3 separate regions of the Homo sapiens genome follow, and regions 1 and 3 are each linked to region 2. Evidence: fine-mapped expression QTL. A gene starts in region 2. Each other region holds a variant in brackets. All regions are shown on one strand. Distances are between the middles of the regions.

The links. PIP is the estimated chance that this variant, and not a neighbour inherited with it, causes the effect.
Region 1: its variant is fine-mapped to the expression of NARF in whole blood (INTERVAL, PIP above 0.99).
Region 3: its variant is fine-mapped to the expression of NARF in whole blood (TOPMed, PIP 0.98).

The regions. Positions count from the first base shown.
Region 1 is chr17:82,405,596-82,413,289 of GRCh38, forward strand. OGFOD3 (2-oxoglutarate and iron dependent oxygenase domain containing 3) reads right to left here. Exons shown (of 9, transcript NM_024648.3): 3 at 5,860-5,935; 4 at 3,773-3,815; 5 at 823-887. Among named protein-coding and RNA genes, the nearest start is that of HEXD, 8.9 kb to the right of the region's middle. The variant C/T (reference allele first, on the strand shown) is at 2,886.
Region 2 is chr17:82,454,915-82,462,608 of GRCh38, forward strand. It overlaps NARF (nuclear prelamin A recognition factor), which reads left to right and starts at 3,827. Exons shown (of 11, transcript NM_012336.4): 1 at 3,827-3,916; 2 at 5,078-5,158. The coding sequence starts at 3,890. It overlaps NARF-AS2 (NARF antisense RNA 2), which reads right to left and starts at 3,605. Exons shown (of 3, transcript NR_184099.1): 1 at 2,759-3,605; 2 at 2,524-2,634. RefSeq lists enhancers at 3,166-3,315, 3,749-4,581 and a silencer at 3,346-4,165.
Region 3 is chr17:82,478,028-82,485,721 of GRCh38, forward strand. It overlaps NARF (nuclear prelamin A recognition factor), which reads left to right. Exons shown (of 11, transcript NM_012336.4): 6 at 773-891; 7 at 3,055-3,184; 8 at 5,689-5,752; 9 at 6,786-6,923; 10 at 7,470-7,627. Among named protein-coding and RNA genes, the nearest start is that of TRX-CAT1-8, 13 kb to the right of the region's middle. The variant A/G (reference allele first, on the strand shown) is at 4,197.

The DNA.
Region 1 (7,694 bases), 49 kb before region 2:
CCTGAGGTCAGGAATTCGAGACCATCCTGGCCAACATGGCACAACCCCATCTCTACTAAAAATACAAAAATTAGCTGGGCATGGTGGTGCGTGCCTGTAACCCCAGCTACTCAGGAGGCCGAGGCAGGTGGATCACTTGAGGTCAGGAATTCGAGACCATCCTGGCCAACATGGCACAACCCCATCTCTACTAAAAATACAAAAATTAGCTGGGCGTGGTGGTGCGTGCCTGTAATCCCAGCTACTCAGGAGGCTGAGATGGGAAAATTGCTTGAACCCAGGAGGCAGAGTCAAATGAGTCGAAATTGCGCCACTGCACTCCAGCCTAGGCGACAGAGCAAGATTCCATCTCAAAATAATAATAATAATAATAAAAACAAGGAGCCAGCCGGGAGCAAGACCCAGGGCTAATGCATGAGGCTGACACGGATCCACGCAGGGAGGGTCTCTTTGCTCTCCCGGCCCCTCATGGAGCGTCAAAGGCCCCGTTGGATTCTTGGAAGCTGCTCCTGGGAGCCTCCCATCTCTGCTGCCTCTTGCTCCCATCCCTTCTGTCCCTGGGCCCACAAAAACACCAGATTCCCCTAAAGCTTCATGAACAAGCCCCCTGCCCACAGGCTGTGGAGAGTCCACACCTCCCAGCTCTTGCGTCCCAAAGAACCAGGAAGGACCCGGCCAACATCACAGCCACTGAGGCCCTGAGGCTGCACCGAGCCGGATCCTCCCTCACATGTCCACGTGTCCACATGTCCATGGCTAAGAGGCACGGAGCCGCTCACTCGGCTTTCAGAGCCAGCACTGAGGTCATGCTGCAGCACTCACCTGTACAGGTTCACAAAGTGCTTCCCGACAGACAGGGCCCCTGAGTGCAAGTCCAGAATGGATGCCTGGAAAAGACGTTGTGGAGTAAAGCGTGCAGCCGCAGCAATGGCAATGGCTGTTAAAAGTCATGGATGGTAAATGCGAGTTTCCAAGGTCTGGCCAGCACACACCTCAGGTGTTTTTTTGTTTTTGTTTTTGTTTTTTGTAAAAAGGATCTTATTCTGTTGCCCAGGCTAGGGCGCAGTGGCACAATCTCAGCTCATTGCAGCCTCAATATTCCAGGCTCCAGGCCAAACAATCCTCCCACCCTCTGCCTCCCAAGTAAAGGCGCTCGCCACCACACCTGGCTAATTTTTCTATTTTTTGTAGAGATGTGGTCTCACTATATTACCTAGGCTGGTCTCGAACTCCGGGGCTCAAGTGATCCTCCCACCTCAGCCTCCCAAAGTACTGGGATTACAGGCATTAGCCACTGCACCCAGCCTCAACCCAGGACTTTCTTAAAATCCTCCCAGACCGGCCAGACGTGGTGGCTCACACCTGCAATCCCAGCACTTTGGGAGGCTGAGACAGGTGGATTGCTTGAGGCCAGGAGTTCAAAACCAGCCTGGCTAACATGGTGAAACCCCATGTCTACTAAAAATACAAAATTAGCTGGGCATGGTGGCGAGCTGTAATCCCAGCTGTAGCTGGGACACCTACAGAGATAGCCTCCCAAGGAGCTGTAATCCCAGCTACTTGGGAGGCTGAGGCAGGAGAATCACTTGAATCAGGGAGGCGGAGGTTGCAGCGAGCCGAGATCGTGCCATTGCACTCCAGCCTGGGCTACAAGAGCGAAACTCCATCTCAAAAAAAAAAAAAAATCTTCCTGGACCAAACACTTTTGTTCCCTGTGACCTAAAGAATGGTGGCACGTGTGGGCTATTTTTAGTCTGGAGCCATCTCCGTGCAGCTCCGTGCCAGTCACAGTCATGTGTCCCTGTGGGCAAGTGTTGACTTCTCTCGAGTAAATGCCTCACAGCGGTGCTCCCACCTTGGCCTCCTGGGCGGCTGGCACCACAGTGCGCGCCACGCCAAGCCTGAGTCATCACTTTGTAAGCCACTGCTGAAGTGTTTCCTGCCCGACCACCCACCTCTCAGTCCTTCCCTACGTCCTCAGAGGAAGAGGCTTCCAGCCCACGTTAGTCATCCCACCTGTGACCCCAGAGGAGCCCCACTGCTGCCCCTTCCTCATCGCCACAGCCACTGGCCCTGCGGCACTAACCTAGCTTGGGCCCGCTGAACAGTAACTGAACCCAAAGCAGCGGCCCAGCCAGCTCCATGCAGGACAACTTCCCATGTGAACGTGGAGGAGCTGTGAAACAGAAACCTACTCACTCACAGATCTTTAACAAATAGCCCCCGAACTGAACCAAACCAAACTGAAATAAAGGGAGGAACTTAGGCCGGGCACGGTGGTTCACACCTGTAATCCCAGCACTTTGGGGGGTCAAGGCAGGTGGGTCACCTGAGCTCTGGAGTTCAAGACCAGCCTGGCCAACATGGTGAAACCTCATCTCTATTTAAAATGCAAAAATTAGCCGGGCATCATGGCACATGCCTGTAGTCCCAGCTACTCAGGAGGCTAAGGCAGAAGAATGGCTTGAACCCAGGAGTTGGAGGTTGCAGTGAGTGGAGATCGCCCCATTGCACTCCAGCCTGGGCAACAGAGCGAGACTCTGTCTCAAAAAAAGAAGAAAAAAAGGAACTTAATTTTCAGAACTCAAGAGAAAAGAGTTTGCAGAAAAAAGTCACACAGACCATCACAGAAATACTTTGAAATTCTCAAAGAGTCTATAAATTAATTTTCTAGAAGTTTCAAATATGCAGAAAGACTCAAGTCTATTCAGTGATTATAATTCAAAGCGATCACCAAATAAACAGAGAGAAACAGATCTTCAGACAATTCCACACACCGAGCAAGAAAACAACCCTGAGGAAACCGCATGGGAATTGGAGCTAACACCAGCTGCACCAGACTGACTCCCAGCCACTGCCCAACAGGAGGGCGAGGCCACAGCCGG[C/T]GGTGGCTCCATGATCCCTGCGGCTGTGGTAACACAAACTGGGGCTTTAAAACAACACAAGTTTATTCTCTCACAGTTCTAGAGCCCAGGAGTCTAAAATCGAGGTGTGGGAGGGGCCCTGCTCCCTCCCAGGGCTCCAGGGGAGGTCCTGCCCGCCTCTTCCATGGCCGCACTGCTCCCATCTCTGCCTCCATCATCACAGGACCTTTTCCTCCTCCCTCTCAAATCTCCCCCTGCCTCTGTCTCCTATAGGCACTTGCCATTGGATTTAGGACCCTAAATCTGGGATGATGTCATCTTGAGATCCTTAAGTTAATTACATCTGCAAAGGTCCCTTTTCCAAATCAGATCATGTCCACGGGCTCCAGGTGAACACATTATCCGAGGCCACTAGCTGACCCCCTGCAGCCTCACATGGGACGACAGCCCCACAGGGCGTCCATGGAGGCGTCCAGCTAGGAAGTTGCAGGATGCGTTGCAGCGTGTCTGTCCCACGGAGGCCCTGCTGTTTCCCGGCAGCTCCACGGGCTCTCCTGTGTCCAGCATGCGCAGCCGTCTCCTCGCTGGGCTCCCACCCCGCTCCCTTGCCGGCTCCCTGCTTCCGACCCCCTCTATCCCCCAGTGTGAACTGGAGCCAGGCAGGCCGTGACATGCCATGAATAGATGGCCACGCACATCTAAGGACACACTCTTCCCAACGAGGGGACGCCGCACGGGTTTCAGTCAGGCGCAGCTGCTGCGGCTGGTGCTGAGAAACACCACGGCAGGCCCCACCCACATTTGGGGGCACGCAGGGAACCCTGCATGTCTGTGCCTTCCCCTTCCCATCCAAGTGAGAGCAAAGTTAACGGGTAAAAAAAGGGGGGCAGGGACTACATTCAACTCACCCCTCCGTCAGATCCTCCCAGGGAGAGCCCCTTTTCAGCTACGCTGCAGGGAGAAAATAATTCAGAATTTCGTTGCTAGAATTGTCTATAATGTATAATCTAGGCAAACGTCAATCAGCAAAATTAATGCAACATTAGTGGGTCCTGCGTGTTTAATGTTTATGATGTAAACAAATGTTTAGACCAAAGGACTCAACTTTCAAAGTTCAGTGCGTAAGCGACAATACTGCCATCGTTGTCTTGTCAATATTTGACTCAGCTTAGAAACGACTGGGCTTCAGCACCTTGGGAGGCCAAGGCGGGTGGATCACGAGGTCAGGAGTTCCAGACCAGCCTGGCCAACATGGTGAAACCTCGTCTCAACTAAAAATACAAAAATTAGCCAGCTGTGATGGCAGGTGCCTGTAATCCCAGCTACTCTGGAGGCTGAGCCAGGAGAATCGCTTGAACCCAGAAGGCAGAGGTTGCAGTGAGCCGAGATCGCGCCACTGCACTCCAGCCTGGACAACAAAGCAAGACTCTGTCAAGAAAGAAAGAAAAAGAGAGAGAGAGAGAGAGAGAGAAAGGGAGGGCTGGGCTTAATCTCTCATCTTCAATATCGAAAGCCACCTGGGCCAAGCTCAGGAGCCTGGGGAGCATCTAGGGGAGGGCCCACTGCTCCCCATCTCTCCTGGAACCCCAGGCAGGTGGGGGAAGCTTTGAGATTCACCAGCTCAGGAGATAGGGGCCCTGACCATGGTGGGAGAAAGACACCCACACGCCAGCTGTGCTGGACCACAGAGGACCACCCTGAGCTGCCACAGGTGCTGGGAGCTGCCTGTGGACACCAAGTGGGGACACGCCGGTGCCTCAGTCAGACAGCAGTAACCCCACTGGAGCTAGGCAGCAGTAACCCTGCGTGGAGCTAGGCAGCATCCTCGGGGGCAGGCTCCCTGGGGAGAATCTCAGGGCAGGGCACGTGGCCCAGGGCTGCACACCATTCCACATGCTTATCGTCTCAACAAGTGGTTGGAAAATCAAAACTTTCTTTTAAGATCTCAGTAAGAAAAGTCCAGCACCAGTAGCCTCTGAGTGGCATCCTGTGCTGCCACAAGTCATAGCCAGGTGGGCTGACGGGCTCCCTGGAGGCAGTTTCAGAGCAGACACTGAGCGGTCATTGAGCAGTGTCCCGGAGGCTCCGTGGGGAGCATGGGGCACTCAGCAGCAGCCCCCAGAGGCGGCCACAACCCCTGCAGAGGAACCTGGGCCTCTGGGTACTCTCCCAGCTACTGCTTCGCTGAGGGCCATGGTCTCCTCTCCTGAAATCGGAAAATCTGAGCTTGGCCCTTGAAAGCACATAATTCTTTTTTTTTTTTTTTTTTTTTTTTTTGAGATGGAGTCTCACTCTGTCACCCAGGCTGGAATGCAATGGCTCAATCTCGGCTCACTGCAATCCCTGCCTCCCAGGTTCAAGCAATTCTCCTGTCTCAGCCTCCTGAGTAGCTGGGATTACAGGAGTGTGCCATCACACTCGGCTAATTTTTCATATTTTAGTAGAGACAGGGGTTTCACCATGTTGCCCAGGCTGGTGTCGATCTCCTGAGCTCAGGCAATCCACCCGCCTTGGCCTCCCCAAGTGCTAGGATTACAGGCATGAGCCACCGCACCCAGCCTGGAAATTCTTATAAAATTATAATAAAATCTTTTTTTTTTTTTTGGAGATAGAATCTCGCTCTGTCGCCCAGGATGGAGTGCAGTGGTGCAGTCTTGGCTCACTGCAACCTCTGCCTCCCGGGTTCCAGCGATTCTCCTGCCTCAGCCTCCTGAGTAGCTGGGACTACAGGCACATGCCACCACACCCAGCTAATTTATTGTATTTTAGTAGAGACAGGGTTTCACCATGTTGCCCAGGCTGGTCTCGAACTCCTGAACTCAGGCAATCTGCCCGCCTCAGCCTCCCCAAGTGCTGGGATTACAGGCGTGAGCCACCACGCCTGGCAATAAAATCCTTAAAACCACTTTATTACTAACAATGCTCTGCTTCCCGCCCTAGCCCCACTCCGCGTGTGTTTGTTTGAATCCCACCGTGCTCAGGGACAGGCGGTTACCTGCGAATCCGCTCCGCTTCCTCCCTGGTGATGACGACATCGGTGACACCTCTGCCGCACTTTCGGGGAGTGCAGCCTGTGAAGGGACAGCCAGGGTGAGACGCAGTTTCCAAGGCCACCGGCGCATGCCCTTCCAGGGAATCAGGGCCAGAACTGGCTAATACGCCCGGTCAAATGTGAATTTCAGACACACACAACCACAGCTCTCCAGCGTGCATGCGCTTTGTGCGGTGCATCTGGAGTTCACGTCTCACTGGGCCACCTTGGCTTCCAGTGGCTCCAACTGGAAATTTAATCCAGAGGCACCTGTTGCTGCCCCAAACCCTGGGAAAGTCACAGAAACCCCAGACACGGCGTCAACAGCATTCCTGAACCATCACTGACTGCAGGTCCAGACACCCACAGGCACCGTCAGAAAACCCTTCTGAGACCACCAGAGCAGAAAACCCTCCTGAGACCGCCAGAGAGGAAAACCCTCCTGAGACCACCAGGGAGGAAAACCCTCCTGAGGCCACCAGAGGGGGGAACCCTCCTGAGACCACCAGAGCAGAAAACCCTCCTGAGACCACCAGAGAGGAAGACCCTCCTGGGACCACTGGCGCAGAAAACCCTCCTGAGACCGCCAGAGAGGAAAACCCTCCTGAGACCACTGGAGCAGAAAACCCTCCTGAGACCACCAGAGTGGAGCTTGTGGGTCTAGTCCCAGTCCTTCCCCAGGGCACAGCGAACTGCTCCGCACATGCCCCTGTCTCTCCCCGTACCTTGGTGACCTGCGGAGGCTGAGAGGGAAGAGGAAGCAGCAGCTCAAATGGGGGTCAGGGTGGTCGGGGCAGGGGCAGGGTCGTTGGGACAGGAGCAACACGGTCGGGGCAGGGGCATGGTTATCGGGGCAGGGGCATGGTTATCGGGGCAGGGGCATGGTTATCGGGGCAGGGGCATGGTTATCGGGGCAGGGGCATGGTTATCGGGGCAGGGGCATGGTTATCGGGGCAGGGGCATGGTTATCGGGGCAGGGGCAAGGTCGTTTGGGGCAGCGGCAGTGTCGTTGGGACAGGATCAGAGTGGACAGGAGTCAGGGTCATTGGGCAGAGGAAAGGTGGACAGGGCAGGGGCAGGGTGTTTGGGGCAGGGGCAGGGTGGTCAGACAGGGTTAGGGTGTTTGGGGCAGGGTGGTCAGGGCAGGGGCAGGGTGGTCGAGGCAGCATCGCACAGATGCACAAGGTACAGCAGAGTGTCGGAGAGGGGCCCAGGGACCCGCCCCTGTGGTTTGGTACCAAGTGCAGCTGGCTTCATGCGCTGGAAAGGCGTCAGGCCATGCCTGATCGATCAGACAGCAGCCCACAAGCACCAGGACATGGGGCAAACCGGGACTCCACAATATGCTTTTCCTCCCTCTCCCTACATCCTGCCTAAAAAGCCAGCCCTGAGCCTGGACGTGGAGCATCCCTCCCGGGACCATGGGAATAAAAGCCTCGCACTCAGTGCTGAGTGCCAGCATCAGGGGCTTGGACCCAGGGATCACAAGGCACCGAGATGACCTTGGTTCCTTTCTCTGGGCCTTGTGCCAGGAGATAAACAGAGCTCCACTTGGCTGAATATCAGGGAAGGGGGGCTGTAGTTACTGTGGTTAAATGATCTAATGGACATAGGTGTTGTATTTCAAAAACAAAAAGTCATTTTATGCTTTTTTATAAGGTTTACCCCACAAAACGCGAGGACACAGGAAAGCGGAAAGCAAACAGCAAATGCAATGAGAGCCACACAGGCCCGTGGCGCAGCCTCTGTACTAGCAAAGAGAATCACTAGAGGGAAGAGAGGGTCCCCCGCGGCACAGG
Region 2 (7,694 bases):
CCTCCCACCTTGGCCTCCCAAAGTTCTGGGATTACACGCATGAGCCAATACACCCGGCCGTAATTTGTTCTTTCAAACATATTACACTTATGTTTTTATTTCATTTTTTTTTTTTTGTATTTTAGAGATGGAGTTTTGCTCTTGTTGCCCAGGCTGGAGTGCAATGGCATGGTGCTGGCTCACTGCAACCTCTGCCTCCCAGGTTCAAGTGATTCTCCTGCCTCAGCCTCCTGAGTAGCTGTGATTACAGGCACCCACTATCACACACAGCAAATTTTTCTATTATTAGTAGAGATGGGGTTTCACCATGTTGACCAGGCTGGTCTCAAACACCTGACCTCAGGTGATCCACCCACCTCAGCCTCCCAAAGTGCTGGGATTACAGGCGTGAGCCACCACACCTGGCCAGTTATGTTTGTAAAACATTAACAAAAAAGCTATACAAATGACAACCTAAAATTATCCTTTTATTTAAACTGAAGTTGAGGGGAGATATTTTCTGAGAGATGCTGACTTGAATTTGAGTAATCTAGAGGGTTAAGACTTCCAGAATTTCATTGTTGCATTTGTAAAAAGCTATACAAAATGAAAACTATAAATAATAATTTTTTTTTTTTTGAGATGAAGTCTCACTCTGTCGCCCAGGCTGGAGTCCAGTGGTGCGATCTCGGCTCACTGCAACCTCCACCTCCTAGGTTCAAGCGATTCTCCTACCTCAGCCTCCCAAGTAGCTGTGATTACAGGCACACACCACCATGCCTGGCTAATTTTTGTATTCTTAGTAGAGATGGGGTTTCAGCATGTTGGCCAGGCTGGTGTCAAACTCCTGACCTCAAGTGATCCGCCTGCCTCGGCCTCCCAAAGTGCTGGGATTACAGGCATGAGCCACCATGCCTGAGCTCAACTTTGAAGTGTCAACTTGAAACTGCCTTTGCAAAGATTAAGGCAGTGATAGAGGCTGGGTGCAGTGGCTCACACCTGTAATCCCAGCACTTTGGGAGGCTGAGATGGATCACTTGGGCCCAGGAATTCAAGAACAGCCTGGGCAACATGGGGAGACCCTGTATCTACAAAAAATTTAAAACTTAGCCATGCACAGTGGTGTGAGCCTGTAGTCCCAGCTACCCCGCGGGGCTGAGGTGGAAGGATTACTTGATCCAAGGAGGTTGAGGCTGCAGTGAGCTGTGATCACGCCACTGCACTCCAGCCTGGGTGACAGAGTGAGACCCTGTCTCAAAAAAAAAAGACAGAGAAATTTCACACAGTTAATTCCGTCTTCCTTTGGACATCCAAGCTGTCCAGTTGTTCCTGGGCATAAGCCAAGCTAATTTTAGGAGCTTTGGGAGGAATTTACAGTTTAACCTTGAAACAAGGATGATAATAGTCCCTTCCTAAAACTATCACCTCCCACTTCTGGGGCTGAAATTGCCTTTGTAAAGCTAATGAAAGGCCACAAGGTTAGGATTGTGGGAGTGGCCTGAACTCTGCTAAAATGCAGGCCTAGTTTCTACAGTCCCTCACTGCTCAGGACTCATGTGGCCAGAGGTCACAAAATTTGCAACTTCCCGAATTGCACCTATAGATAATATCAGTATTGCAGGACCTAAGAATGGCTTTTTGAGATGTTTTTCAGAGTGAACCCACCCCAACCTGCTACTCAGGACTCAATTGGTTTCTGTGGCCCCACCCAGAGGCAGACTCAGTGCTTGAGGACCGTTTTCCACACACCCTTTTGATTTCATTCCCAGTCAATCAGCAGCATCCATTCCCTAGCCCCCTGCCCACCAAATTGTCCATAAAAACCCTAACTGCGGCCAGGCGTGGTGGCTCATGCCTGTAATCCCAGCACTTTGGGAGGCCGAGGCAGGCGGATCACAAGGTCAGGAGTTCAAGACCAGCCTGGCCATTATGGTGAAACCCCATCTCTACTAAAAAATACAAAAATTAGCCAGGCGTGGTGGCGTGTGCCTGTCGTCCCAGCTACTTAGGAGGCTGAGGTAGGAGAATCGCTTGAACCTGGGAGGTGGAGGTTGTAGTGAGCCGAGATTGTGCCACTGCACTCCAACCTGGGTGACAGAGTGAGACTCCGTCTCAAAAACAAAAACAAAAAAACAAAAAACAAACTCCTAACTGCTGAGCCTTTGGAGAGACTGATTTGAGTAGTAACTGTCTCCTGTGTGGCCTGCCAGGTGTCAATTAAACTCTTTTCCCGGCCTGCTGCAATCTTGATGAATTGACTTTTTGTCTGTGCAGTGGGCAGGAAGAACCCGATGGGCAATGGCAAGCTGAAGAATGATGAGATTCATAAATCTGGAAAGGAGAGCTTTACTTCTCATAAAGGGTTTCAGCCTGCAGGGTGGCCATTCTGACAGACAGGGAAGCACTGCCTCTGGCCAGAAGCCAGAAACAGACACTTCCAGGGAGGGGCAAAGGGAACAGGAATCTATGAGGTGCAGTGTGTAAATATACATATTTATCAAGCTACAGGAGAAGTCATGAATATTTTTGAAGAGAGAAACATACACAAACACAATGAAGCTTCAGGCCCCTTCACGAGGGTCATGTCATCTCACCAGAACCACTCCATGGTCAGTGTCTCTTATCAGTAAGGAATACTGGTCAATTGGGCCGAAACTGCAAATGAGAGAGTTGTTATCAGCGGTGGAGTCTTTCGAAAGCGCTGGTTTCCGTTAAGCTCTTAGCCAAGAAAACCTAATGGTAGTTAGCCAAGGGTTGGCCTTAATAACAGGTGTCTCACCTCCCATCTGTCATGGCTGAGAACTGCCTTCAAGGCAACCCTGGGATCTCCTTAGCCAGTAGGGGGTTCGTGTAGTCAGTTGGGGGTCTTTGGATTTCATTTTCATTTCTCAGAGGACAGGAAGGAAGGCTCTAACATGGGGAATCCTGAGAACTGCTGCTGTCTGTTAAATACGCCTACAAGTTATTTTTCTTATGTCACACTCTCCCAGACATGTTCTTACTTCTCATTTCTGATTTCTGTAATACACACACACTGATTTCATAAAACGTTTATGAGTCCAACACTTCCATTATAGCCCTGTATCAATGTTTTGCTTAGCTGAAATCAATTTCTTGGAGGAGTAAGTGTTATCTTTACTTTGTAAGCTGTAAGGGCCCAAATCAATGTACTTGGTAAAACTATCCATAGTGAACACACGCAAATGTCAAATGGCCATCATTTAGCATCTGCCCTCGGGCTTCCGGGTCCATCACGTGGTTACTGACAGGCAGGCCGCGCATGCGCGCTGCTACTCCGCCGAGCCTACGTGACACGACGTCAAGTGGCAATGGCGGCGGACGAGGGCTGTGCCCCCGGCCCGCCCCGTTAGGAGCCGCGAGTAAGGCGAGTGTCCAACGCCGAGCTGGCTGACAGAGCCCGGCCGCGGCCTCCGCGGGCCCAGGGGCCTCCAGGCCCCGTGACCACCGGACCGAGCACCCTGGAACGGCCCCAGCTTGGCCTCGGGACAGTCCGCGCGCTCACCGACTCCCTGGTGAACGCCGCTTGGCCGCCGCCGCCGCCGCAGGACCCACGAGAAGCGGAAACCGGCGCAAGGACCCGGTCCCCCCGGCGCCGTACGTGGAGTGAGCCTGCGGTCCGCCCCGCGCGCTCCGATTGGCTCTGGGGCCTGGCCCGCCCCTTCCCGACACTGTCATTGGCCTAGGCAAAGCCGTAAGGGTGGGGAATCCTATTGGCCCAGGGGTGCGGCTTGTCCTCTCCCGGTGCTCTCATTGGCCGAGCGCGGCCGTTGGGGGTGAGGCCGCGTCGGGGGAGGACAACAAAGGGCCGCGGGCGGCGGGCAGTGGTGTCCCAGTCTCCCGGTGCTTCCCTGAGGCTGAGGCGCCCGGCCTCCCGCCCGCCGCGCTCCAGATGAAGTGTGAGCACTGCACGCGCAAGGTGAGCGCCGCGGGCCGGGGAGGCGCGCGCCTGGTGCTTGTCCTGTGGGGCTCTGGGCGGCCGAGGTTGGCGGTCCGGGCCCGCCGCTCGCTCGCTTCAGGGCTCTTCAAGGCGCCCCCGGCCTCGGCACCCTGGGCCCGCTCGGCGTGGAGGCGGCCGGCGCGGGGTCCGCTGCGCTCTGCAGGGCGGGTTCGGTCTTCGCGGTTCTCCCTGAACTTGTCCATCTTTCCCACGCCCGCGAAGCGCGGAAACGCACGGAGACCGAGCCTCTCGTGCCGCGCACCACAGTCCGAGTAAACAGCGGTCGTGGCGGGAATGATCAGAAGCGTTTCGAGAGGGTTTTAGGCGTTTTCGAACCTGCCCCTCTGAGGGTCACCGAGCAGCCGGTGCAGGGGCGGAAGCGGGTGACGGCTGCTGACCGGCGCCTTCCGCGGTTGTCTCCAGGCCATGGCAACAACCGCGCAGCGCACGCAGGGGGGTTTTGTAGCTGTTATTGCCGGAATGGGCTCCTGTGGATGCTGCTCTGTGGCTGGCACTTCTGCGCGTGACGCCGTGGCAGGAGGCTTCCTAACATTCCATGGGTCGTTCATCCCCGGTGGTGGCTGCGTCCTATTCTAAGTACACCTGTGTCCAGGGGAATTCGCCTGTGGGGTGAAGGCTACAGTTGCTTCTGCTTTTTTATTATTGTAAACAATAGAGATGTGTGTGTGTCCTTCAGTACCTGTTTCACTAGAAGGGTTAGAAGGATAGAAGGCCAGGCACGGTGGCTCAAGCCTGTTATCCCAGCACCTTGGGAGGGGAGGCCGAGGCGGGTGGATCACCTGAGGTCAGCAGTTCAAGACCATCGTGGCCAACATGGCGAAACCCAGTCTCTACTAAAAATATAAAATTAGCTGGGTGTGGTGGCGCACACCTGTAATCCCAGCTACTCAGAAGGCCGAGGCAGGAGAATCGCTTGAACCCGGGAGGTGGAGGCTGCAGTGAGCCGAGATTGCGCCCCTGCACTCCAGCCTGGGTGAGAGCGAGACTCCGTCTAAAAAAATAAATAAATAAACTAAAAGAAAGGATAGAAATACATGAGCTTCATTGGTCAGAATGTGCACATTTTCTTAAGGGAGACGAAGTAAAAGTTCATTGATAATGTTCCTTTGCTTTTTTAAGGAATGTAGTAAGAAAACAAAAACTGATGACCAAGAGAATGTGTCAGCCGATGCACCGAGTCCAGCCCAGGAAAATGGAGAGGCAAGTAGATTTTTCAGTTTTGTATCAGCCCAGAGTAAACTACTGCTGCTGTTTTTCTCTTTGGGGGCTCACAGCACCGTGCACATCACTGCTTTAAAGAAGACTGAAGTACGCGGGCATGGTGGCTCACGCCTGGAATCCCAGCACTTTGGGAGGCCGAGGTGGACGGATCACTTGAGGTCAGGAGTTTGAGACCAGCCTGGCCAACATGGTGAAACCTTATCTCTGCTAAAAATACAAAAATTATCCAGGTATGGTGGTGTACGCCTGTAATCCCAGCTACTCAGGAGGCTGAGGCAGGAGAATTGCTTGACCCTGGAAGACAGAGGTTGCAGTGAGCTGAGATTGTACCACTGTACTTCAGCCTGGGCAACAGAGTGAGACTCTGTCCCAAAAAAAAGACTGAAATAGGCCAGGCGTGGTGGCTCATGCCTGTAATCCCAGAACTTTGGGAGGCCGAGGCAGGCGGATCATGAGATCAGGAGATTGAGACTATCCTGGCTAACACAGTGAAACCTCATCTCTACTAAAAATGCAAAAAATTAGCCGGGCGTGGTGGGGGGCGCCTGTAGTCCCAGCTACTCGGGAGGCTGAGCCAGGAGAAAGGCGTGAACCTGGGAGGCGGAACTTGCAGTGAGGCAAGATCGCGCCACTGCACTCCAGCCTGGGCAACAGAGTAAGACTCCGTCTCCGAGACTGAAATAAACTTGAAGGGGCTAATAAAGACATGTGTGAGACAGTCCATCAGTGGCACAAGGCCTGTCTTCTCAGAACACACTACACCAAAACACACTGCATTGGGAACAAAGAAAACGTGGTGTAATACTGGATTTCTTCTTTTAATTTTTTTTTTCCCCTTTTGAGACAGGGTCTCACTGTCACCCAGGCTGGAGTGCAGTGGCTCACTGTATGGCTCACCGCAGCCTTGACCTCTGAGGCTCAAGTGATTCTCCTGCCTCAGCCTCCCTAGTAGCTGGGACTACAGGTATGCACCACCATGCTCAGCTAATTTATTTTTATTTTTATTTTTTGGTAGAAATGGAGTTCCACTATGTTGCCCAGATTGGTCTTGACCTCCTGGGCTCAAGTGATCCTCCTGCCTCAGCCTCCCAAAGTGCTGGGATTACAGGCGTGAGCCACTGCACCTGGCCTCTCTTCTAATTCAGTTCTTGTTTTTAAATTCTCCTTAGCTAGTAGCTATGGTCTCTGTTTATTGGATACATAACCTGAGCCTGGCTCTCAAGAATGTGATTTTACAGCCAGGCATGGTGGCTCACACCTGTAATCCCAACACTTTGGGAGGCCGAGGTGGGTGGATTACCTGAGGTCAGGAGTTCAAGATCAGCCTGACCAACATAGATAAACCCCATCTCTACTAAAAATACAAAATTAGCTGGGCGTGGTGGTGCATGCCTGTAATCCCAGCTACTCAGGAGCCTGAGGCAGGAGAATTGCTTGAACCCGGGAGGCGGAGGTTGAGGTGAGCCGAGATCACGCCACTGCACTCCAGCTGGGGCGACAGAGTGAGACTCCGTCTCAAAAAAAAGAATGTCATTTTACATGCAGTCTCATTTCACGCCCAGAAGGAACATTACATGTAAGCCTGGCCATTATCCCTGTTTTACTGAGTGAAGGGTGTTGGGAGAGGTTAAGGTCAGTCTACCCTTAGAAAGTACTAGTACCAGTTTATAAATGGAGAGTTGGCAATATGGCAGAAGCATATTTTTTCCTTAAGTTTAGTAGTCCTGACATGTTTAATCTGACAGGTGTTCTCCCGGTTGCCCTGTGTGCCAGTGCTGTGGGGACTGTGGGGCTTAGGGAGCAACAGGGCCTGAGACAAGCAGCCAAAGAGCTGGCCACAGGCAGAAGAGAGGTAGGGTGCATTGGAGCCCTGGAGGCAGCTGGGGCCAGTGCGCCTGAGTGGCCGACCCCAGGGGCCTCCCTCACCTGCCCTCTGGTTGTGTCGTTGTAGACAGATATCTAAGCCCTGTGAGCCTCGTTTCCTTATCAGAGGCCTGGGGAGTAGGGTTACCTCCCTCCCAGGACTGTGGTGAGGATGAGATAACGTGTGTACACAGCCTAAGTGGGCGCCCTGCCAGGTCAGTGATGGACACAGGGTGAGAGGAGTTGGGTTGGGGTTAATGGAGTGGACCCTGAAGAGTGGTCAGAATTCAGGGTGGGAGTGTAGGGAAGGGCACTGGCACACCAGGCAAGAGGAGGGTGTGGACAGACGTGCTCTAGGGAGAGACAGTGGCTCCCCTTGGCCAGGTCAATGACAGTGCAGAGCTGTGGAGACCGTGAGGGGGTGACTCAGGTGTTTGTTTTAGGGCAGGTGATGGAGGTAACCGACTTAAGCTGGCTAGAGTAGGGGAAGAATTGCAGGAAGCCACTTGGGTGGCAGCTTTGAGAGCCTAGGCAGAGGTGGTGGGCCTGGGCAAGTCTACCAGAGTGATAGAGACAGAACAGAGGACGTAGTGCAGGGAAGGGAGTGCAGTTTTAGCTCCACAGACACTGGGCCTTCTACGGTGTGTGAGTC
Region 3 (7,694 bases), 23 kb after region 2:
GGCTCTCATGTACACAGGTGTGCAAGTGTCTGTGGGGTCAGGTCCTAAAATCAGTTGCCAGGTCAGCAAGTTCTGTGATGTTCTTATGCACTCTGACTGGGCTGTACGCCTGCGGGAAAGGAGTAGGCAGGGCTCCTGCGGTGGAATTGCTGTTGTGTGGTCAGCTGCAGTGGTGACTTGTGTTCACCCTGGAAACCACAGCAGCACTCAACCTCAGGAAAGTGCTCAGATTGTGCGGGCATGTAGTGACACTACAGATGTTGCTATTTATTACGACTTGAGGAGTATAGATTTCTTATATTTTAAAAAGCGTGCAGTTGTTGGGCTGTTAGTTTCTCGCCGGTGAGAGAAGTTGGGCAAGCATGTGGCTGCTCTCCCCTGAGCGGTAGCTGCGTGTCCTGGCTGTAAGGACGCTGTAGCTGGCCAGGCGATTTTGCACGGTGCAGCCTGGGCCGCTGCTCCTGCTGCCTTTCAGTGCTTGTTCCCCTTCACCTTTTTGGGGGACCTGTTACTCCGACTCTTACTTGTCTGTCGGCCTTGCAGGGATGCTCCCATTTCCCAGTAGCCTCCAGGCCTGCAGGTTCCCATGACCCACAGCCGGGCCACCGAGGACGGGTTTTGGGTCCAGCACGAGCTCCTGGTAAGGCCTGGGGAAAAGGTGTTCTGGCTTCACCCTGGGGCGGCAGGGACTCGAGCTCAGCATTCCCTGGTGCGTTACAGGAAGACCAGAGGAAGCAGTAAGGAGCTGACCGTGGATCCCTTCTCTCCCCAGGCTGGGTCCGATACGCCGAGCGGGTGCTGGGTCGCCCCATCACTGCCCACCTCTGCACCGCCAAGTCCCCCCAGCAGGTCATGGGCTCTTTGGTGAAGGATTATTTCGCCAGACAGCAGGTAAGCTGACCTCTCTGGAGGGCAGGAAGGGCAGGTGAGGGAGGACCATGGCACAGGGGCCCAGGAAGGGGAGGTTCCCCATCTGTCCAGCGTGGTCACGGCCCCCCAGGTGAGCAAAAAGGAAGCTGTGGCTTCAGGAAACATCAGCAGTGCTGTTTCTCACCAACGCCCGTCTCTATTCCTCCCTTCCTCTTACAACCTTTTTCTTTCTTCTTAACCTTTTCTGTGGCATCTGGTGGTTTTCCTGGGCCCATTCGGGGTAGAGTAGAAATGCTGCCCACCCTGCTGAGAATGAGGCCCCGGACCTTGCCCAGAGATGCTGCCTGCCTGCTGTTGGGATGCCTCACCCAAGGAGGCCTAAAGTGGCCTGTGCCTGGAGGCTGAGGGCAGCTGTCATTTAGGGAGCCAAACCTGGCCTCTGCCCTGGCCTTTCCCTCAGACCACGGGCATCACATGACTTCCTTAGCCACTTCTGTGAGATTCCACAGTGGCCATGATGCTGTCCTCCTCTTGATGGAGTGAGTCCCGGCCTGAGGCTCCTGCGTGCCCCCTGCCTCGGCCCGTCGTGTTCTCCCTTCCCACAACCCTCTGCGGCCCCCAGGTCCTCCCAGAACTCCCTGATGTCTCCAAGGCCACCCTCAAAGGGACCCTAATCCCATGGTTTATTCTCCAGCCGCTGGCATGCCCCACACTGCTCTTCTCAATCAGACTTTACACCTCCCTCCGGGGAAGCAGCCATGTCCAGGCACTGTGGTAACTGGAGTAGAGGGTAACATCAGGATCTTTCAGACATTTGAAGTCAGCCTAAAAAGGCACGCACATTTGGCAGCCTTGTTATTTTAGCAATAGGCAGTGTTTTCCTTCTATCTAGTTTCTTTCTACCCATAAAGTCATAATTTGGCAAATTATAAACATGATGTCAGAGTATACACGTTCAGTTTAGGCAGGACCGAAAAATGAGCTATGGGACTTTCTGTCCCTTGCCCTGCCCCCACCTGAAGAGAGCCATGTGTTTCTAGGTCTTCCACGTGCTGCCCTCTCCCCTGGATGGAGCCCAGAGCTATGTGTCCTCCTGTAGGTGCCATGAGGGGCAGCCGCAGAGACCCGGCCTCCAGCAGCCTCTCACCTGACCACCTGGCACAGCTGCAACCAGGGGCGGGTTTCCTCTTTTGCTCCGCCCCTGCCCTGAGTGGGTCCTTTCCACCCAGACCTCACCACAGGGTCACTTGGCAACTGCTGGCTCCTGGCTTTGCCACCAGTTCAGGCCCAGCCACAGGCACCTGCTCTGTGTGGACCCAGGAGAGGGGTAGCTTGGGTGGGCATCGCTTGGGAAGATTCAGGAAAGTCTGTGGGTGAAGTAGCCAGCGCGCGCACACACACACACACACACACACTCACTCAGGCCTCCTGCAATGGCTCCATGCTGGACCAGCAACAGCTCCACGCCGGCTGGACTTCCTCTTACTTGTTTTGTCCCCATGTGCACAGGTTCAGGAGGAAATGGGCTCAGCCTTCCCGGTTCTTCCAGGAGGCTCCACTGGCTGGGGGGCTTTGCAGATGTTTGGGAGGACCACACCCAGTCCTGAGGGAGGCAGCAGACAGACATGGATGGAGTGCTGGTGCTCGGTAGAGTTGAAGAGGGGATGGGAGCCAGATGTGGCTACAGCACTTTCATCTGTGGGGCCCGGCCTCAGACCCACAACAGTCCCAGCCCCAAGAAAGTGCTGCATGCAGCCAGGCTCGATGGCTCACGCCTGTAATTCTAGTACTTTGGAGGCCGAGGCGGGCAGATTGCCTGAGCTCAGGAGTTTGAGACCAGCCTGGGCAACACGGTGAAACCCCATCTCTACTAAAGTACAAAAAATTAGCCAGGCGTGGCGGCATGCGCCTGTAGTCCCAGCTACTCGGGAGGCTGAGGCAGGAGAATCGCTTGAACCCGGGAGGCAGAGTTTGCAGTGAGCTGAGATCACGCCACTGCACTCCAACCTGGTGACAGAGCAAGACTCCATTTCAAAAAAAAAAAAAAAAAAAGAGTGCAGCATGCAGTGTCTGGAGGGCAGCAGCAGGGGGCATTCGGTCTCCCATCCCTCTTGTTCTGGGCACCAAGCGTAAGCTGCCGTCACCTCTTCACCAGCCCTAAATATGGGTGCCCCTCTCCCACAGAACCTGTCTCCAGAGAAGATTTTCCACGTCATTGTGGCCCCTTGTTATGACAAGAAGCTGGAGGCTCTTCAGGAAAGCCTTCCCCCTGCTTTGCATGGCTCCCGGGGCGCTGACTGCGTGTTAACATCAGGTGAGAGGTGGGCGGGGGTGCACCTGGGCGCTGGGGTAATCTCCTACTGGCCAGTACACACCAGAGCCAGGCAGATCTGTGTCCCAGAGCCATCTCAGTGCCTGCCAATGTGGTCGCTTGTCTGAAGTTACTGACAGCTGAGGGTCCTAGGGGCTTAACTGCAGGTGAAGAGAAGGGTCATGTTCGATCTAGCCTCCTGTCTCCTCTGTGCATCTTCCTCAAGATAAATCAGGTCTCAGCTGGGCACAGTGGCTCACGCCTGTAATCTAAGCACTGGGAGGCCAAGGCAGGTGGATCACCTGAGGTCAGGAGTTCGAGACCAGCCTGACCAACATGGAGAAACCCCGTCTCTACTAAAACTACAAAAAACTAGCCGGGCATGGTGGCACATGCCTGTAATCCCAGCTGCTCGGGAGGCTGAGGCAGGAGAATCGCTTGAACCCGGGAGGCAGAGGTTGCAGTAAGCCGAGATCGCGCCATTACCCTCCAGCCTGGGCAACAAGAGTAAAACTTTGTCTCAAAAAAAAAAAAAAAAGATAAATCAGGTCCTGGGAGAACCACTTGGGCAGTGTGGTGGCCCTAACTTTACATTACAGTCCATGTAAGGTACTTATCTCTTGGTGGGAAAGTTGTCTATAGCCATAGCGGGTCTCCTAATCACAAACCAAGTCTGCACTTAAAACACAAGTGAAGTTTTTTTCATTCAGAATAAAATGAAAAAGGCACGTTTGCTCCAGTGATATTGCCTTTACCACGGTATTGGCCACTCCTTTCAGATGTTAAGAGCCTACAGTGAGTTCTGTGTGTGTTGTGGATGGAAGTGATTCCCTGGAATTATGTAGAACCCATTCAGAAGAATGTTGACATCAGTTGGTGGGGGAAGCTTAAGACTTTGTTAAAATTCTGGCGGAACTGTTTTAATTGGTCTCTGAAAACAGGTCCCTGCAGGTATTTAGATCAGTGGTAGATGAGGCAGAGAGGTCAGCTCTCAGGGACAATCTTTAAGGGCGCC[A/G]ATGTCCCTCACAGGCCCCTGACTTGAAATTCTAGCACGCAGACGCCTCTGGAAAGGTCCCCACCCCATAGGCACAGGCTCCCTGTGGGGTGATGTGGCAGGGGTGTTGAAGGATGAGGGATAGAAGGGTCCTCAGCACGGCCATCCTTCACTCTCAGAGGAAGGGCCCAGGGGCCATCTGCTTACGTTGACAAAATAAAACATGCGCGGTGGGCTGTCAGAAGAACCATGTCCAGCCATCTTTTTTCTGAGTGCAGATTTATAGGAAATTACGCTATTTTCTTACCTGTGTTTCCAGCCATCTCACAGCATCTAATGTGATGCCACAGCCATAGTTTTAGAGGCTCAGTTTTTCTATTAAGGGTTTTTTCAGGCATCCTCATGTAAAAGGAAATACAGAAAGTGGTTCTCACTTTCAGTTGATCTCATTGCAGAATAAACAATTGTCATATAAATGTAGCTGGGTACAATGGCTCAGACCTCTAATTCCAGCCACTCAGGAGGCTATGGCTGGAGGATCACTTGAGCCCAGGAGTTTGAGACCTTGCTGGGCAACACAGTGAGACCTCGTCTCTTTTTTTTTATTTTTTGAGACGGAGTCTCACTCTGTCACCCAGGCTCTGCAGTGGCTCCATCTTGGCTCACTACAACCTCCGCGCCTCCTAGGATCAAGCGATTCTCCTCCCTCAGCCTCCCGAGTAGCTGGGATTACAGGTGCGCCCCACCACACCAGGCTAATTTTTGTGTTTTTAGTAGAGAGGGGGTTTCGCCATGTTGGCTAGACTGGCGACCTTGTTTCTTAAAAAAAAAAGGGCTGGGTGCAGTGGCTGACACGTGTAATCCCAGCACTTCAGGAGGCTGAGGCAGGCTGGTCACCTGAGGTCAGGAGTTCGAGACCAGTCTGGCCAACATGGTGAAACCCCCGTCTCTACTAAAAATACAAAAATTAGCCAGGCGTGGTAGTGCACACCTGTAATCACAGCTACTCAGGAGGCTGCGGCAAGAGAATCACTTGAACCCGGGAGGCAGAGGTTACAGCGAGACAAGATTGCACCACTGGACTCCAGCCTGGGCGGCGGAGGTGAGACTCCATCTCAAAAAAAAAAAAATGCAACCAGTGTATATTTCATCATCCTATCTCTGTGAGCTTGTTATACACAAAAGTTTTCTGTTTGTTTCATGCAAAGTAGGCCAAAAAAGTTTACAGATTTTCCACATGGGAAAATCATGGAGAGATTGTTTACATAAATCCCACAGTTCAAGGGCAGAAAGAGGAATGGAAAGAGGAGTTAGAATTGAATTCTGCTTACGTTTTATTAGTGTTTCATTTTATTGGCCTCACTTTGCCCTTTAGATGGACTCCTGCTGTGTGTGATGGAGATTTCATAAGAGGGAGGTCACCCAGGGTCACTAATGTCAAATCTCCTGCAGGGGAAGAAAAGTTCCTGTGGCCACCTGTGTCTTTTCAGTGTCTTACTTCGTTTGTCTGCAGGTGAAATTGCTCAAATAATGGAGCAAGGTGACCTCTCAGTGAGAGATGCTGCCGTCGACACTCTGTAAGTGGCTTCTCTGGGGAGAGTCCTCTGGGGGGCAGGACCTCTCGTCAGCCCTGCCAGCCACCTGCCAGGCCCAGGGCTGCCCTGCTTTATGACGAGGCCATGTGAAGCACTGCGATGCAGTCCCCCAGGCCCCTGCCACAACCCTCAGCCACCCTATAGCTGTTGAATGGGATACCATTCACCAGGGCTGCCAGGGAGTTGAAGGTTTGGCGGGCTTCCATGGTGTGATTGCCACCCTAAACCCTTGAGGAAGGACAAAATGCACAAACAGCTTTGTCCTCGCTGGCGCAGGGCTGTTCATGTGTGCACCAGCCCCCTTCTTCCTGAGTGCCGTCTGTGCCTCACATTCCGTGTGGTCTATGGGGCAGTGGGGCAGCTCCCTCAGGCCCCTTTGCACCAAGAGTGGCAGTCTGGGTTCTGCTGGGGGCGGTGACCTCGATACCCAGCAAGGCCCAGGGCTCCTGCTGCACCCCAGGCACTGGGCAGAGAGCACCACAAAGGCAGCAGCGTGTGTCCTCGCCAACAGTCCGCATCCCAGGTGCTGCATTCGTGCCCTTTTGGGGGAAGGTAAGATAGAAGTTTACAGAATTTAAGCATCTGTGGGGCCAGGCGTGGTGGCTCACACCTATAATCACAGTACTTTGGGAGGCTGAGGTAGGAGGATCACTTGAGTCCAGGAGGCTGGGGCTGTAGTGAGCTATGATTGTGCCACTGCACTCCAGCCTGAGAGACAGAACAAGACCCTGTCTCCAAAAGAAAAAGACCATAAGCATCTGGAGCACCTGCAAGAGCCTGTGCATGGGCTCGGCGTGACTGAGAGTCCTCCGCCTTGCCCGAGCATCAGGCAGGCCCTCCCAAGACCCCTCAAGATGCTAGAATGGGACTTTCTGCAAAGTTTAAACATCTGTACAGGATTTAGCTTCTTTGGTGGCGAACTTGGATTGTGATGCCCTCAGGAAGTCTGGTTTCACTCTTTCTGTCACTGTACGTCAGCATTCATGAAGGACTTGTATTTTCTCTGCCTTGTGAGGTTTGGAGACTTGAAGGAGGACAAAGTGACGCGTCATGATGGAGCCAGCTCAGACGGGCACCTGGCACACATCTTCAGACATGCGGCCAAGGAGCTGTTCAACGAGGATGTGGAGGAGGTCACTTACCGAGCCCTGAGGTGTGGGGCAGTATCCACAGCCTGTCTGTGCCTGTGGTTAGCACGTGTGCATGGTGTGCCTGTATGGATCTGTGCATGTGGCGGTTCTATGGATGGAGTTTACACTAGTCAAAATCAAAAGGACTTTTTTGTGTTTATTCAGACCTTTTATTTTGCTGACATTCCAAACTTACATTAGAAAGTGTTCTTGGCCGGGTGCGGTGGCTCGTGCCTGTAATCCCAGCACTCTGGGAGGCCGAGGCGGGCGGATCATGAGGTCAGGAGATCGAGACCATCCTGGCTAACACAGTGAAACCCTATCTCTACTAAAAATACAAAAAATTTGCCGAGTGTGGTGGTGAGCGCCTATAGTCCCAGCTACTCGGGAAGCTGAGGCAGGAGAATGGCGTGAACCCGGGAGGCAGAGGTTGCAGTGAGCCAAGATGGTGCCACTGCACTCCAGCCTGGGCAACAGAGCAAGACTCCGTCTCAAAAAAAAAAAGGAAGTGTTCTTAAGTCACAGATAAAGGACTTGATGGATCAAAATTCTCTGTGTTCATTTTGTAGAAACAAAGACTTCCAAGAGGTCACCCTTGAGAAGAACGGAGAGGTGGTGTTACGCTTTGCTGCAGCCTATGGCTTTCGAAACATCCAGAACATGATCCTGAAGCTTAAGAAGGGCAAGTTCCCATTCCACTTTGTGGAGGTCCTCGCCTGTGCTGGAGGTGAGGCGCCAAGAGCAGCACCTGGCTCTGTCTCCCACGGGTGCTCAGGCCACACTGGTCCTGCAGC